Regions from separate parts of the Homo sapiens genome. Here region 1 is linked to region 2. Evidence: fine-mapped expression QTL. Tissue or cell type: whole blood. Region 2 holds a variant in brackets; the other region holds the start of a gene. All regions are shown on one strand. Distances are between the middles of the regions.

Region 1 (8,000 bases), 110 kb before region 2:
GGTGGTGGGTGCCTGTAATCTCAGCTACTCCGGAGGCTGAGACAGGAGAATGGCCTGGACCCAGGAGGCGGAAGTTGCAGTAAGCCGAGATCGTGTCACTTCACTCCAGCCTGGACAACAGAGTGAGACTCTGTCTCGAAAAAAAAAAAGGACAAAATGCTGTAGGATTCCACTGATATGACGTACCTGGAGTCAGCAGAGCCACAGAGACAGATGGTAGAATGGTGAGTGCCAGGGGCTGGGGTCCATTGTTTAATGGCTACAGTTTCTACTGGGGGTGATGAGATAGTGGAAAATAGTGATGACGGTGCACAGCGTTGTGAAGGCAGGAATGTACCTAATGCCACCAAATTTCACACGCGGAAGTGGTTAAGTGGTCAATTTTATATTATGTATAATTCAGCACACAGACCAGCACGGCCCCAAGTGCGGATGCAGTAGGTCACGGCCAGCCGCCCGCCGATAGCCTTTCAGTCTGAGGGACAGCACAGACGTGATGTGTGGCCGGGCATGGCCCCCAGTCTGTGAGCCATAGAGGGTGGGACTGGGTGTCCCAGCAGGAATCGGGGTGTGGAGGAGCTGCCTAGATGGTCTGGAGAGGGCAGATGGACCTCGAGGGGAGGGTTTGGGCTCAGCAGCCTCTCACCCTTGCTGGCCAGGCTCCCAGGATTCCCTGCCCAGGGACCTCTCACCCCCTCAGCTGGTGGCTCTGCAGCCAACCTGCCCGTCTGTGCTGCTCCGGGGATGGGCAGAGAGAGATCGGGGGTGTCTGCACAGGCATGGGCAGCCTAGGCTCACTTGCCCCTTGGGTGACCTACTGTGCCCTGCACAGGCTGACGAGGGCCCTGGCGATGCAGACCTGGGGTCCTCCTGCAGAAGTTGGGCCCCTTCACATGTCAGGTTGCTGTGCCAGTGAAGGGGTGGCCAGCCCCTCCACACCTGTGGGTGTTTCTCGTCAGGTGGGATGAGAGACTGAGAAAAGAAATAAGACACAGAGACAAAGTATAGAGAAGGCAGTGGGCCCAGGAGACGGCGCTCAGTATACGGAGGACCCGCACCGGCCCCGGTCTCTGAGTTCCCTCAGTATTTATTCATTACCATTTTCACTATCTTTGCATGAGGAATGCGGCAGCAGAGCAGAGGTCAGCAAGAAAATGTGAGCAAAGGCATCTGTGTCACAAATAGCTTGAAGGGAAGGTGCTGTGCCCGGATGTGCACGTAGGCCAGATTCATGCTTCTCTCCACCCAAACATCTCAGTGTAGCAGAGTAACAGAGCAGCATTGCCGCCAGCATATCTCGCCTCCAGCCACAGGGCGGTTTTCTCCTGTCTCAGAATAGAACTAATGTACGATCGGGTTTTACACGGAGACATTCCGTTCCCAGGGGCATGTCGGAGACAGAAGCCTTCCTCTTATCTCAACTGCAAAGAGGCCTCCCTCTTTCACTAATCCTCCTCAGCACAGACCCTTTATGGGTGTCGGGCTGGGGGACGATCAGGTCTTTCCCTTCCCACGAGGCCATATCTCAGGCCGTCTCACTGGGGGGAAACCTGGACAATACCCAGGCTTTCTTGGGCAGAGGTCCCTGCGGCTTTCCGCAGTGCACTGTGTCCCTGGTTAATGGAGAATGGAGGATGGCGATGACTTTTACCAAGCATACTGCCTGCAAACACATTGTTAACAAAGCACATCCTGCACAGCCCTAAATCCCCTAAACCTTGAGTCAATACAGCACATGTTTCTGTGGGCACAGGGATGGGGCTAAGGTTACAGGTTACCAGCACAGGCCTAGATGCCTTAAACCTTGATTCCATACAGCATATGTTTCTGTGGGCACAGGGATGTGGGCAGGGGACTGTGGCCACCCTCACCCCTGGCAGAGCCATGCTGGGTAGCCCCATGCCCACCCTTCCCGGCTTGGGAGGCCCTGGCTGCTGCCCAGAGGGGCATCAATGCCTGGGCCGTGGACAAGAGGGAAAGTGGCTTCCTTGGAAACCCTGCTCCTGGAGCCCTCCCTGAGGCTCTGGCCCCTCTGTGGGCCCAGCCAAGCCTGGAGCGTCTCCAGGCTCTGGTGTGCTTGGGGAGCTGGCCAGCTCTCGGCCTAGCTGGCGTCTCCAGAGCTGCGGTCCTGGGTGAGGGTTGCTGGTGGAGTTCTGGCCACCTAAGGCACCCGAGGGAGCCAAAGGAGCAGAGGTGTGGGGTGGGGGACGCCGTGGGGTACCTCCACATCCAAGGAGGTCTGCTGTTTGTCCTCACCCCCGTCCTGCGGGGGCCCCGGCAGGCAGCCCCAGGAACTGCGTAGGGATGGGACAGGGCCCAGATGTGAGGGCCGTGGTGGGGACGGTGTGTGGCCCTGGATGACCTCGTGTTGCAGTGTGACGTGATGGTCACTGCCACCATGCTGAGGGCCCCAGCCACCAGTCACCCACCATGGGGGGTGCCTCTGTGTGAGGCACGGGAGGGCCATGGCGTGAGGGGCTGTGGAAGTGGCCGGTCTTCTCCGCTCAGCCCCACACAGGATGGGCAGGGCAGGGTCATGCTGGCCGAGGGTAGTCTTGGGAGAAGGACAGGGTAACTCTCTGTAGCTGAGCCCCTGCTGCCCCTGCACCTGTTCTGGGCCTGGCTAGCGGCCCATGTACATCCCCAGCAGGACTCCACGTAGCTAGTCTGGCACCCACCACTACGGCCCCCTCACCCACTCCCTGAACTGGACGCTGGGGAAAGGTGACTTCTTCCATCCTCTGGGTGCTCCCCAGGGAGGAGGCCCCAGCTCCCAGCAGAGGCCTCTGGTCCCCCCTTGTCCCTGCAGGGCTGTGTGGGCACACTGGGTGCCAGTCGGAAGGGCAGGTGGCGATTCCCAGCTCTTGGGAGCTACCCGGCCACATCCCGGCCCTGCCCAGACGCTCCAGGGGCACCCCACACTCCTGCCCGCTGCGAGGCCCCGCCCCGCCAAGCCCAGCCCGTTATCGCTTGGACAAACCCTGGGTTGCTTTCTTCGGGGGGCCAGCACTCTGTTTGGGACCCTCTCCCTCCCGCCCTTAGGGCAGCAGAACGGCCCCCACTCTCCCGGCCCTGCCTTGGAGTGGGGCACCTGCCAGGAGCAAGTGCTGGGGAGGCTTGGCGGGCGCAGCAGGGACTCGCCCTAGCGCAGCTCCGGATGGGGCCGCGGTAGGAGGACGAGCCAGTGGGGCGGGAGGCCGCGGAGATGGCCCGGGGGCCCTCTGCTTCCCCGCGCCGTGCCCGGGAAGGACCCCTGGGCAGCGGCCGCGGGGCGCGGGGTGTTGGGGGGCACAGCCCCGGCGCGGCGCTGAAGCAGCGACGGTCTCCGTGGGGACCGCGGGCGCCCGAAACACGTGGGGCCTGGAGGGAGGAGCGCGCCCTGGCGGCCCCGTGACCCCGCCCACGTGACGGGCGCCCGCGGAAGGCGACATGGGCTCCGCTCCCTGGGCCCCGGTCCTGCTGCTGGCGCTCGGGCTGCGCGGCCTCCAGGCGGGGGGTGAGTGGCGGCGCCCCCCGGCCCATTCCCCGGTCCCGGCCCCGCCTCTGAGGTTCGCGTCCCCCCACAGCCCGCAGGGCCCCGGACCCCGGCTTCCAGGAGCGCTTCTTCCAGCAGCGTCTGGACCACTTCAACTTCGAGCGCTTCGGCAACAAGACCTTCCCTCAGCGCTTCCTGGTGTCGGGTGAGACCCCGGCCCCGGCCCGGCCGCCCCCGCCGTCCCGCCGCCCCCCGGCACCCTCGCCTCATCCGCCCTCCCCACAGACAGGTTCTGGGTCCGGGGCGAGGGGCCCATCTTCTTCTACACTGGGAACGAGGGCGACGTGTGGGCCTTCGCCAACAACTCGGCCTTCGTCGCGGAGCTGGCGGCCGAGCGGGGGGCTCTACTGGTCTTCGCGGAGCACGTGGGTGCCGGGCGGGGTCGCGGGCGGGGTCGCGGGGCACGTGGGTGCCGGGCGGGGTCGCGGGCGGGGGTCGCGGGGCACGCGGGTGCCGGGCGGGGTCGCGGGCGGGGGTCGCGGGGCACGCGGGTGCCGGGCGGGGTCGCGGGCGGGGGTCGCGGGGCACGCGGGTGCCGGGCGGGGTCGCGGGGCCGGGCTCAATGGCACGTTCCCCCAGCGCTACTACGGGAAGTCGCTGCCGTTCGGTGCGCAGTCCACGCAGCGCGGGCACACGGAGCTGCTGACGGTGGAGCAGGCCCTGGCCGACTTCGCAGAGCTGCTCCGCGCGCTACGACGCGACCTCGGGGCCCAGGATGCCCCCGCCATCGCCTTCGGTGGAAGGTGGGCGCCTCCCCCGGCCTCCGCACCCCCTCCCTCCCCTGCCCCGACCCAGCGCCCCCAGCCCTTCTCCCCACTCCCCTCTGACTCCCACCGCTGCCTTTTCGTAAGGCCTCAGGCAGTGGTTCCAGGCTTAGTGTTGCCTCCCCCAGGAAGCCCTCCCACCTGTCCTCCCAGCCACCTGCTCAGCTTGGATGTGCGGCCACACTAGCGGCCTTTCCCAGTGAGAGCTGCACCCGCACCTGGCCCAGGGTTGGAATTTGTGGGTCTCAGAAGTGTCGTCCTCCTTGTGGCACCTGTGGGCCCCTGAGGAGGAAAAGAGGAAATGGGGTGTTGGGGGCAGCAGCCCTAACCCTGTGTCCCTCACCCAGTTATGGGGGGATGCTCAGTGCCTACCTGAGGATGAAGTATCCCCACCTGGTGGCGGGGGCGCTGGCGGCCAGCGCGCCCGTTCTAGCTGTGGCAGGCCTCGGCGACTCCAACCAGTTCTTCCGGGACGTCACGGCGGTGAGTGAGGCTTGGGGTCCTCCAGGCCCCCTAAGGGACAGCAGCTGCAGTCAGCACGGTCTCTTTCCCCCAGGACTTTGAGGGCCAGAGTCCCAAATGCACCCAGGGTGTGCGGGAAGCGTTCCGACAGATCAAGGACTTGTTCCTACAGGGAGGTGAGGTCCTCCCACCGCCTCCCACTGCCTGACCCGCCCCAGCGCCAGCTATGCCCAAACTTCAAGTCTCTGCCCCTTCCACGCAGCCTACGACACGGTCCGCTGGGAGTTCGGCACCTGCCAGCCGCTGTCAGACGAGAAGGACCTGACCCAGCTCTTCATGTTCGCCCGGAATGCCTTCACCGTGCTGGCCATGATGGACTACCCCTACCCCACTGACTTCCTGGGTCCCCTCCCTGCCAACCCCGTCAAGGTGAGGCGCCGCCTCCCAGGGCGCAGGGAGAGGCCGGCTGGAGTGTCCCGAGGCTGGTGGTCAGCGGCCTGACCCTCATCCTGGGAGCCAGGGAGGCGGAGCTGGTGGAGGGGACCCCGCTGAGTCGCCGCTGCCCCTGCACTCCAGGTGGGCTGTGATCGGCTGCTGAGTGAGGCCCAGAGGATCACGGGGCTGCGAGCACTGGCAGGTGCCCTTCCCCCGGCCCCAGATGGGCAAGTGTGGAGACCCCAGGCTTGGCTTGGGTCCTGGGGCCGGGTGGGGCGAGGATCCGCAGCCCGGCCAGGGGCTTTGCCTCCTGCCCCAGGGCTGTGGTGGGGTGGACAGCACGACCTTCCCAGAAACCCTGGGGGAGGCAGGGGCCGTCCCTGGGGACCCTCTCAGCACTGGCTGTAGCCAGGCCCAGCTTGGTGGGTGCTGCCCAAGGGGCCCCTGGGGTCCCCAGCATGGAGGGCAACAGAGGGCAGCAGGCCCCACCCTGCCCCGTGGAGAGCGGGGGGGCCCTCAACAGTCAGGCCCGGGGCTGGCAGCACAGACACCGCCGACCTCCAAGCAGGTAGCCTGGAGGGCCTTCCTCACTGGGACCTACAGATCCCAGAGCCCCAGATCCCCTGCAGGACCATTCCGAGGGGGGACAGGTTGGTGGCCGGAGCCCGCGGTGTGTCTGTGTGTGGCCGCTGGGCCCCAGCGCCTCTCCTCCCCAGGGCTGGTCTACAACGCCTCGGGCTCCGAGCACTGCTACGACATCTACCGGCTCTACCACAGCTGTGCTGACCCCACTGGCTGCGGCACCGGCCCCGACGCCAGGGCCTGGGACTACCAGGTGTGGGGGTGTGGGTGGCCTGGAACCACTCGGGGGCAAGGGTGGGCGTGGGCTGGCCTGACTCAGGCTGGGGCACCTGCAGGCCTGCACCGAGATCAACCTGACCTTCGCCAGCAACAATGTGACCGATATGTTCCCGGACCTGCCCTTCACTGACGAGCTCCGCCAGCGGTACTGCCTGGACACCTGGGGCGTGTGGCCCCGGCCCGACTGGCTGCTGACCAGCTTCTGGGGGGGTGGTAAGGCTGAGGGGGGGTGGGCCAGCGTCCTGCTTTCTGCCCCGAGCTCTGCACCCCCTGCCCATGGCTCACAGCCCCCGTGAGGGGCCCACATCACAACTTTCTCTGCCCCTTGCAGATCTCAGAGCCGCCAGCAACATCATCTTCTCCAACGGGAACCTGGACCCCTGGGCAGGGGGCGGGGTGAGTCCTGGCCTGGGCCCTATGACCCCGTTAGTTTGTTTGTTTTTTTTTTGAGACAGGGTCTTTCTCTGGCGCCCAGGCTGGAATACAGTGGCGAGATCAGGGTTCACTGCAGCCTTGACCTCTGAGGCTCAAGCCTCCCAGTAACTGGGACTACAGGCGCTCACCAACATGCCCAGCTAATTTAAAAAAATATTTTTTTGTAGAGACACAGTCTCACCATATCGCCCAGGCTGGTCTCGAACTCTTGGGCTCAAACGATCTTCCCCGCATGGCCTCCCAGAGTGCTGGGATCACAGGCCCCTCGCCTGCCCCTACCCTGCTCCCGTCTCACCCCCAGAGTGCTGGGATCACAGGCCCCTCGCCTGCCCCTACCCTGCTCCCGTCTCACCCCCAGAGTGCTGGGATCACAGGCCCCTCGCCTGCCCCTACCCTGCTCCCGTCTCACCCTCAGAGTGCTGGGATCACAGGCCCCTCACCTGCCCCTACCCTGCTCCTGTCTTACTCCCAGAGTGCTGGGATCACAGGCCTCACACCTGCCCCTTCCCTGCTCCTGTCTCACCCGGTTTTGCCCCCATCATCTCGTCACTTCCCACCTCCGTCTCTGGCTGGTTCTCTCTGGTTGCTTGATGGGCACTGAGTCTCGGCTCGCCCTCTCACGTCTCCTCTCCAATGGGCCCACGGAGGCTGGGCAGTTGCCTCGTTCCTCACCTGATGGAGTTCTTTCCACTGACCACAGATTCGGAGGAACCTGAGTGCCTCAGTCATCGCCGTCACCATCCAGGGGGGAGCGCACCACCTCGACCTCAGGTGCGGAGGGAGGTGGCCTGGCGGTGGTCGCGGGTCGGGCGGGACAGGCTCACCGAGGGCTGGGGCTGACGGGCCCCCTCTGTGCCCGCTCCCCAGAGCCTCCCACCCAGAAGATCCTGCTTCCGTGGTTGAGGCGCGGAAGCTGGAGGCCACCATCATCGGCGAGTGGGTAAAGGCAGCCAGGCGTGAGCAGCAGCCAGCTCTGCGTGGGGGGCCCAGACTCAGCCTCTGAGCACAGGACTGGAGGGGTCTCAAGGCTCCTCATGGAGTGGGGGCTTCACTCAAGCAGCTGGCGGCAGAGGGAAGGGGCTGAATAAACGCCTGGAGGCCTGGCCATGTATGTCCCGTCCTTCCTGTCTGTGGGGCCCACACGCAGGCTGTGGGAGCGGGACCCTCGGAGACACGGCTGGGGACGCGGCGCACCCCACACAGGCCGGGTATGCCATGTGCTCCACAAGGTAGAGGCTCCACAACGCTCAGGTCTGCTCCTTAGGGCAGCGGGGGGCAGTGCCCCGCAAGGAAGCCCCGCTCTGCTGAGCCGCAGCAGACAGAGGCTGCAGCCACACCTCCAAGGTGACTCCTTCCCTGACATCCTCTGTACACAGCGACCCCTCCAGGGGAGGCCACTGGACAGTGCTTTTGGCCCCCAAGGGGCATGCAGTTGCTGTCCCTCCACCCTCTGGGACCACGCCCCCAGCACGTTAGTCTCGGAGGTCTGGGTGAGATGGAGAAGGTGC
Region 2 (8,000 bases):
CATGTGAAAGCAAGCAGCTGTGACCTGCCAGCCCCGGCCCTGCAGCCTCCTTCCCCCAAGAGCCGCCAGGGTAGCCCAGAGTTAACAAAGGGTACAGCAAGGCTTTTCAGGGCCCCGGTGGCCCAGGCATGCCCTTTTTTATTTTTTATTATTATTTGTTTGAGGAGACGGAGTCTCACTCTCTTGCCCAGGCTGGAGTGGGGCACAATCTCGGCTCACTGCAAGCTCCGCCTCCCGGGTTCACACCATTCTCCTGCCTCAGCCTCCTGCGTAGCTAGGACTACAGGCGCGCATCACCATGCCCGGCTGATTTTTGTGTGTGTGTGTGTGTTTTTAGTAGAGATGAGGTTTCACCATGTTGGCCAGGCTGGTCTCTAACTCCTGACCTCAGGTGATTGCCCCAGCCTCAGCCTTCCAAAGTGCTGGGATGACAGGTGTGAACCACCGCGCCTGGCCAATTTTTGTATTTTTAGTAGAGATGGGGTTTCACCATGTTGGCCAGGTTGGTCTCGTGTAGGGACCAGCCCCACAGGGTCGGTGGGTCTCTCCCCATGTGCGGTGACGAGACAGTGTAGAAATAAAGACACAAGACAAAGAGATAAAAGACAGCTGGGCCCGGGGGACCACTAACACCAATGCGTGGAGACCAGTAGTGGCCCCGAATGTCTGGCTGCACTGTTATTTATTGGATACAAGGCAGAAGGGGCAGGATAAGGAGTGTGAGCCATCTCCAATGATAGGTAAGGTCACGTGGGTCACGTGTCCACTGGACGGGGGCCCTTCCCTGCCTGGCAGCCAAGGCAGAGAGAGAGAGAAGAGACAGAGAGAAAGACAGCTTATGCCATTATTTCTGCATATCAGGGACTATTAGTATTTTCACTAATTGACTACTGCTATCTAGAAGGCAGAGCCAGGTGTACAGGATGGAACATGAAGGCGGACTAGGAGCGTGACCACTGAAGCACAGCATCACAGGAGACGGTTAGGCCTCCGGATAACTGCGGGCAGGTCTGACTGATGTCAGGCCCTCCACAAGAGGTGGAGCAGAGTCTTCTCTAAACTCCCCCGGGGACAGGGAGACTCCCTTTCCTGGTCTGCTAAGTAGCGGGTGTTGTTCCTTGACACCTTTTGCTACCGCTGGACCACGGTCCGCCTGGCAACGGGCGTCTTCCCAGACGCTGGCGTCACCGCTAGACCAAGGAGCCCTCTGGTGGCCCTGTCCGGGCATAACAGAAGGCTCGCACTCTTGTCTTCCGGTCACACCTCACTATGTCCCCTCAGCTCCTATCTCTGTATGGCCTGGTTTTTCCTAGGCTATGATTATAGAGCGAGGATTATTATAATATTGGAATAAAAAGTAATTGCTACAAACTAATGATTAATGATATTCATATATAATCATATCTAAGTTCTATATCTGGTATAACTATTCTTGTTTTATATTTTATTATACTGGAACAGCTCATGTCCTCGGTCTCTTGCCTTGGTGCCTGGGTAGCTTGCCGCCCACAGTCTCGAACTCCTGACCTCAGGTGATCACCCAGCCTTGGCCTCTCAAAGTGTTGGGATTACAGATGTGTGCCACCATGCCCAGCCAATTTTTGTATTTTTAGTAGAGATGGGGTTTCACCATGTTGGCCAGGCTGGTCTTGAACTCCTGACCTCAGGTGATCGCCTAGCCTCGGCCTCTCAAAGTGTTGAGATTGCAGGCGTGAGCCACCGTGCCTGACCAATTTTTGTATTTTTAGTAGAGATGGGGGTTTCACCATGTTGGCCAGGCTGGTCTCGAACTCCCAACCTCAGGTGATCTCCCAGCCTCGGCCTCCCAAAGTGCTGGGATGACAGATGTGAGCCACTGCACCCGGCCCTAGGCATGCTCTTTAGAGTTTTTCCAAAAAACCAGGATCAGCCAGGTGCTGTGGCTCAAGCCTGTCATCCCAGCACTTTGAGAGGCTGAGGTAGGCAGGTCACCTGAAATCAGGAGTTCAGCTTGGCCAACATGGCGAAACCCCATCTCTACTAAATATACAAAATTAGCTGGGCATTGTAGCGCCTGTAATCCCAGCTACATGGGAGACTGAGGCAGGAGAATCACTAGAATCTGGGAGGCGGAGGTTGCAGTGAGCAGCGCTCCAGCCTGGGTGACAGAGTGAGACTCCGTCTCAAAAAAAAAAAAAAAAGAAAGAAAGAAAAGGCTGGGCATGGTTGCTCACACCTGTAATCCCAGCACTTTGAGAGGCCGAGGCGGGTGGATCACTTGAGGTTGGGAGTTCAAGACCAGGCTGACCAATATGGAGAAACCCTGTCTCTACTGAAAATACAAAATTAGCCGGGTGTGGTGGCACATGCCTGTAATCCCAGCTACTCGGGAGGCTGAGGCAGGAGAATCGCTTGAACCTGGGAGGTGGAGGTTGCGGTGAGCTGAGGTTGTGCCACTGCATTCCAGCCTCAGCGACAGAGTGAGACTCTGTCTCAAACAAACAAACAAAAAAAGGAAATAAAAATCCAGGATCCAACCACGAGGCACTCCTTGTGTCTTGCTGCCTTCCCCGGGGCCCCTCTGAGCCGTCCCCAGCCTTGGCGTTCTTGCCCTTCCAGGGGGACAGGCTCCGCAGGCCCAGGCTGAGCTCTGGATGTGTCTTCATTTCCTCCTGGCTGGATGCAGGTTGGACATTTTTGGCCGGAGCAGCACTGGGACACGCTGTGTCGGTCACCTCCAGGTGTCCATCTGTCCCTCAGCAGGTGATGCTGAATGTGGCCGCCTGGTTGAGGCCCAGTTCTCCCTCCCTTAGATGTGGGAACGCAATCTGGGTGCTGCGTGGCCGCGCCCCCCGACCCCCGTCACCCAGGGCCAGCAGCTGCAAAATGGCCATTTCCTGCCTCTATTCCATTTCTGCATCTACTGGCTGGCATTTCTCTCTCACCAAGGGCCCCTCCACTTTAAAAAGTCTATCAGTACAGACTTGCAGGTTTAAAAAAATTAATGTGTTAACATGCATTACTGTCATCTTTTAATTACTTATTTTGAGACAGGGTCTTGCTCTGTCACCCAGGCTGGAGTGTGGTGGTGCAATCATAGCTCACTGCAGCCTCCAACTCCTGGGCTCAAGTGATCCTCCTGCCTCAGCCTCCTTACAGGCATGTGCCACCACACACGACTAATTTTTATTTTTATTTTTGTATAGATAGGGTCTTGCTATATTGCCCAGGCTGGTCTTCAACTCCTGAGCTCAAGGGATTCTCCCACTTCAGCCTCCCAGAGTGTTGGGATTACAGGGGTGAGCCACTGCATCTGGCTCTTTTAAAATTTTTTGATGGTGGTAAAATCTATGTAACATTTATCACGTTAACCATTCATAACGCACAATCCACTGTTGTCTTATGCTCAGATGGCCTGAGGTCCAGCCAGCGGTGCCCCTCCAGCAGGCGCCCCTCCAGCACGGCTTCTGTGTCTTCGTAACCAGCTCCTGATGTGTTTTGAGTGCGTCCCTGCCTTCCCTGCCCCACACCTGGAATCAGCCTCTCTCCAAGGAGCCTGTCTCAGTCCGACCAGGACTGCTGTGCAAAGGACCCTGGACGGGTGGCATTCATGCCTCACAGCTCTGGAGGCTCGAAGTCCGAGGTCGGGACGCCAGCATGGCTGGGTTCTGGCGAGGGCTCTTCTGGGTTGTGGACTTCCCTTGACTCCTCACCTGGCAGGAGGAGCGAGGGAGCTCTCCGGGGTCCCTTTTATGAGGGCGCTGATTCTGGTCATCTCGAGGGTGTCACCTTCATGACCTACCCACCTCCAAAAGACCCCGCTTCTTTTTTTTTTTTTTTTTTTTGAGTCTCGATCTGTCACCAGGCTGGAGTGCAGTGGCGCAATCTTGGCTCACTGCAAGCTCCGCCTCCTGGGTTCATGCCATTCTCCTGCCTCAGCCTCCTGAGTAGCTGGGACTACAGGCGCCTGACACCACGCCCGGCTAATTTTTTGTATTTTTAGTAGAGATGGGGTTTCACCATGTTAGCCAGGATGGTCTCGATCTCCTGACCTTGTGATCCGCCTGCCTCGGCCTCCCAAGGTGCTGGGATTACAGGCTTGAGCCACCGCGCCCAGCCAACCCCACTTCTTAACACCATCACCTTGCAGGAGACAGGGTTTTGTTTTGTTTTTTTTTTTTTTTTTGAGACAGAGTCTCGCTTTGTCACCCAGGCTGGAGTGCAATGGAGTGATCTCGGCTCACCGGAAACTTTGCCTCCCAGGTTCAAGCGATTCTCCTGCCTTAGCCTCCCGAGTAGCTGGGATTACAGGCATGTGCCACCACGCCCGGCTAATTTTGCATTTTTAGTAGAGACAGGGTTTCCCCATTTTGGTCTGGCTGGTCTGGAACTCCCAACCTCAGGTGATCCACTCACCTCGGCCTCCCAAAGTGCTGGGATTACAGGCGTGAGCCA[T/C]GTGCCTGGCCTAGGGGCCAGGGTTTCAACACACAAATTTTGGGGAGGACACATTCAGTCCCTAGCAGAACCCTGGTTCCTTTTAGGGAAGATGGGCTTTGGGACCAGAATCTGAGCTCTGGTCTGCACACTGCTCCCGAGGTCTCGCTGCCCCCGAGGTCCCGCCGCCCCCGAGGTCCCGCCGCCCCCGAGGTCTCGCCGCCCCCGAGGTCACGCCGCCCCCGATGTCTCGCCGCCCCCGAGGTCTCACCGCTCCCGAGGTCTCACTGCTTCTAGGCTCTCTCCATGCACAGAGCAGATAAATCTCTGCACAAGTTTGCACCAATACCCCAATGCCCCCAGCCCTCCGGCCCCCCAAACAGGTGTGTGTCTCCCTTCAGAACAGAGCTGCTCAAATGTCACTGGGGTGTGGCCCTGTGCAGGCGGAGGCAGGAGGATCACTGGAGCCCAGGAGGTGGAGGCTGCAGTGAGCTATGACTGCGCCATTGCACTCCAGCCTGGGTGACAGAGTGAAACCCTGTCTCAAAAAAAAAAAAAAAAAAAAAAAAAAAGAGCCCCTTGGAAGGGGCCTACAGGGAGGGGTGTTGGGGAGGGAGAGAGTTCTAACCCACCAGTCAGTCAGTCCCAGAGCAGCAGCCTCGGGACCTCAGCTTGGGCCCCTCTAACGCTGGCTCTATGAATCAGGAGCAGGGGCTGCAGGGGACGGGAGGTTTAGGGATAACCCCGTGGCCTCGGGGACCAGGGTCTAGTTAAGGTTAGTGGCTGTGATACTGTTCTTACTTCAAAACATTATGAAATTGTGGTAGAAAATGTGGTATTACAAAAATGTGGTAGAAAATGCAAACAGTGTGGACAGACAGGAAGCAAAACTGAAAGCCTGTTTCTGCCTGTCAGGGGTCATCCCACAGACAGCTCCTTGCGTCTTTTTTCAGCTCTGTTCAAGTAGAGACTCAGAATGACAGATCCTAATGCTGATTTTCTTCCATTTCCTGGCTTCTCCCTGCTTTACTTATTAGCTTGCTGGCGCTGCCATGCAAAGGACCACAAAGTGAGGGGTTTAAAACAACAGAAACTGACTTTGGGAGGCCGAGGTGGGCGGATCACTTGAGGTCAGGAGTTTGAGACCAGCCTGACCAACATGGTGAAACCCCGTCTCTACTAAAAATACAAAAATTAGCCAGGCGTGGTGGTGGGCGCCTGTAATCCCAGCTACTCGGGAGGCTGGGGCAGGAGAATCGCTTCAGCCGGTGAGGCGCGGGTTGCAATGAGCCGAGATTGAGCCATTGCACTCCAGCCTGGGTGACAGTGAGACTCCATCTTAAAACAACAACACCGCGGGGCGCGGGAGCTCACGCCTGTAATCCCAGCACTTTGGGAGGCCGAGGCGAGCGGATCACGAGGTCAGGAGATCGAGACCATCCTGGCTAACGCAGTGAAACCCCGTCTCTACTAAAAATACAAAAATTAGCCAGGTGTGGTAGCGGGCGCCTGTAGTCCCAGCTACTTGGGAGGCTGAGACAGGAGAATGGCGTGAACCTGGGGAGGCAGAACTTGCAGTGAGCCGAGATTGTGCCACTGCACTCCAGCCTGGGCGACAGAGCAAGACTGCATCTCATTAAAAAAAAAAAACAAAAAAAACAGAAGCTCACTGCCTAGCAGTCTGGAGGTCAGACATAGCACCTAGGCTTGGGCAGGGCTGCTTCCTCCCAAGGGCCTTGGAGAGCATCCGCTTGGCTCCCAGGCTTACAGATGTGCCACCCTGATTTCTGCCTGCGGCCCTCCCTGTGCATCTGTGTCCAAACTCGCCTTTCTATACTGACATCAGTCATATTGGATCAGGGCACATCCTACTCACCACATTTTAACTTGATAACTTCTATAAAGACCCTATTTCAGCCGGGTGCGGTGGCTCACACCTGTATTCCCAGCATTTTGGGAGGCCAAGGTGGGTAGATCTTCTGAGGTCAGGAGTTCGAGACCAGCCTGATCAACATGGTGAAACCCTGTCTCTACTACAAATACAAGGAAAAAAAAAAAAAGCTCAGCGTGGTGACGTGTACCTGTAATCCCAGCTACTCCAGAGGCTGAGAAAGTAGAATTGCTTGAACCCAGGAGGCAGAAGTTGCAGTGAGCCGAGATTGCACCACTGCATTCCAGCCTGGGCAACAGAGCAAGACTCTGTCTCAAAAAAAATGTTAAAAAGCCCCTGTTTCCACATAAGGTCACATTCTTTATTTTTTTTCCAAGATGGAGTCTTGCTCTGTTGCCCAGGCTGGAATGCAGTGGCACTATCTCTGCTCACTGCAACTCTGTCTCCCGGGTTCAAGCACTTCTCCTGCCTCAGCTTCCCGAGTAGCTGGGATTACAGGTGCCTGCCACTATGCCTGGCTAATTTTTGTATTTTTAGTAGAGACGGGGTTTCACCATGTTGGTCAGGCTGGTCTCAAACTCCTGACCTCAGGTGATCCACCCCCCTCGGCCTCCCAGACTGCTGGGATTACAGGCATGAGTCACCGTGCCCGGCCCATATAAGGTCACATTCTGAGGCACTAGGGGTTAGGACTCCAGCCTAAGAATTTAAATTTAAGGGGACACAAGCCACGCCATTTACCTAATCTCAGGCCCTCCCTGCAGTGGGCATGCATGGAGTCACCTTTTCCGTCCTTCTCCCTGGACACAACTGGAGTCTCCCATAGACAGGGTGGTGGCCGTGCCACGGAGCCACGCCACGCCACGCCACGCCACGCAGTGGGGCAGCCAGCACTCACTTGCCCTTCACAGGGAAACCGGCCGGGTGTGGCAGCTCGCGCCTGTAGTTCCAGCACTGTGGGAGACCAAGGCAGGTGGGTCACTTGAGCCCATGAGGTGGAGACCAGCCTGGGCAACATGGCAGGACCCTGTTTCTAGTAAATAAATGAATTGATTAAACCATAAAAAAAAAAGGAAGCCACCGGGCTGATTCCCAGGTGGCGAGGGCACAGGGGGGTGTTGGATGGCCACTGCCGCTCCACAGTCCACAGCCCACGCCCACAGAACGCAGTGGGGCCGCTGCAGCGGTGAACCGAGTCTTGTTGGTTTGTTTCTTGAGACGGGCGTGAGGTGAATGGTCTTCCTGTGTCTTGTTTTCTTTTTCCTTCTGAGCCACCGGTTCACGGCCTCTGTCCGTGCCGTCATTTTTCCTGTGGGTTTGTGAGGGTGCGTCTGTCGGTGTTAAAGACACAGGATGCCGGGGCAGCAGAGGGGGCTGGGGGCCTGGGGCTTCTCTGTGGTTGGCCATTTGCCTGCCAGGGATGTGGGAAACCAGCAAGCGGAGCTATAACCACAGTGTCCAGAAAGAGCTGAAATACTAGGGCTTGGAATCGAGGTGGAGGCCGGATGGAGGGAAATTGAGGTTCAGGACACCAAAGGATGGGGCAGCCACATGGTATTTCCAAGGCTCTGTGTCCAGGAGCCCCGACTGGCGTGGTATCCAGAGAAGCATCAGGCTGGGCTGACTGGGGCAGCACTGGAGTGTGTTCCACCGGGGACGGATGAGGGGCCCGTACCAAGGCCCTGGGGAGAAGGTG

Evidence for each region. PIP is the estimated chance that this variant, and not a neighbour inherited with it, causes the effect.
Region 1: it holds the start of DPP7, and the variant in region 2 is fine-mapped to the expression of DPP7 in whole blood (TOPMed, PIP above 0.99).

The regions. Positions count from the first base shown.
Region 1 is chr9:137,110,143-137,118,142 of GRCh38, reverse strand. It overlaps DPP7 (dipeptidyl peptidase 7), which reads left to right and starts at 3,410. Exons shown (of 13, transcript NM_013379.3): 1 at 3,410-3,496; 2 at 3,567-3,680; 3 at 3,761-3,900; 4 at 4,115-4,278; 5 at 4,647-4,782; 6 at 4,856-4,937; 7 at 5,024-5,190; 8 at 5,338-5,398; 9 at 5,913-6,031; 10 at 6,114-6,270; 11 at 6,389-6,453; 12 at 7,193-7,263; 13 at 7,360-7,597. The coding sequence starts at 3,430. The coding sequence ends at 7,495. LOC124902314 (a long non-coding RNA gene) reads right to left here and starts at 3,344. Exons shown (of 2, transcript XR_007061874.1): 1 at 1,099-3,344; 2 at 365-972. RefSeq lists silencers at 3,185-3,534, 3,565-3,714.
Region 2 is chr9:136,997,660-137,005,659 of GRCh38, reverse strand. No RefSeq gene overlaps it. Among named protein-coding and RNA genes, the nearest start is that of CLIC3, 5.1 kb to the right of the region's middle. RefSeq lists an enhancer at 5,375-5,494. The variant T/C (reference allele first, on the strand shown) is at 4,435.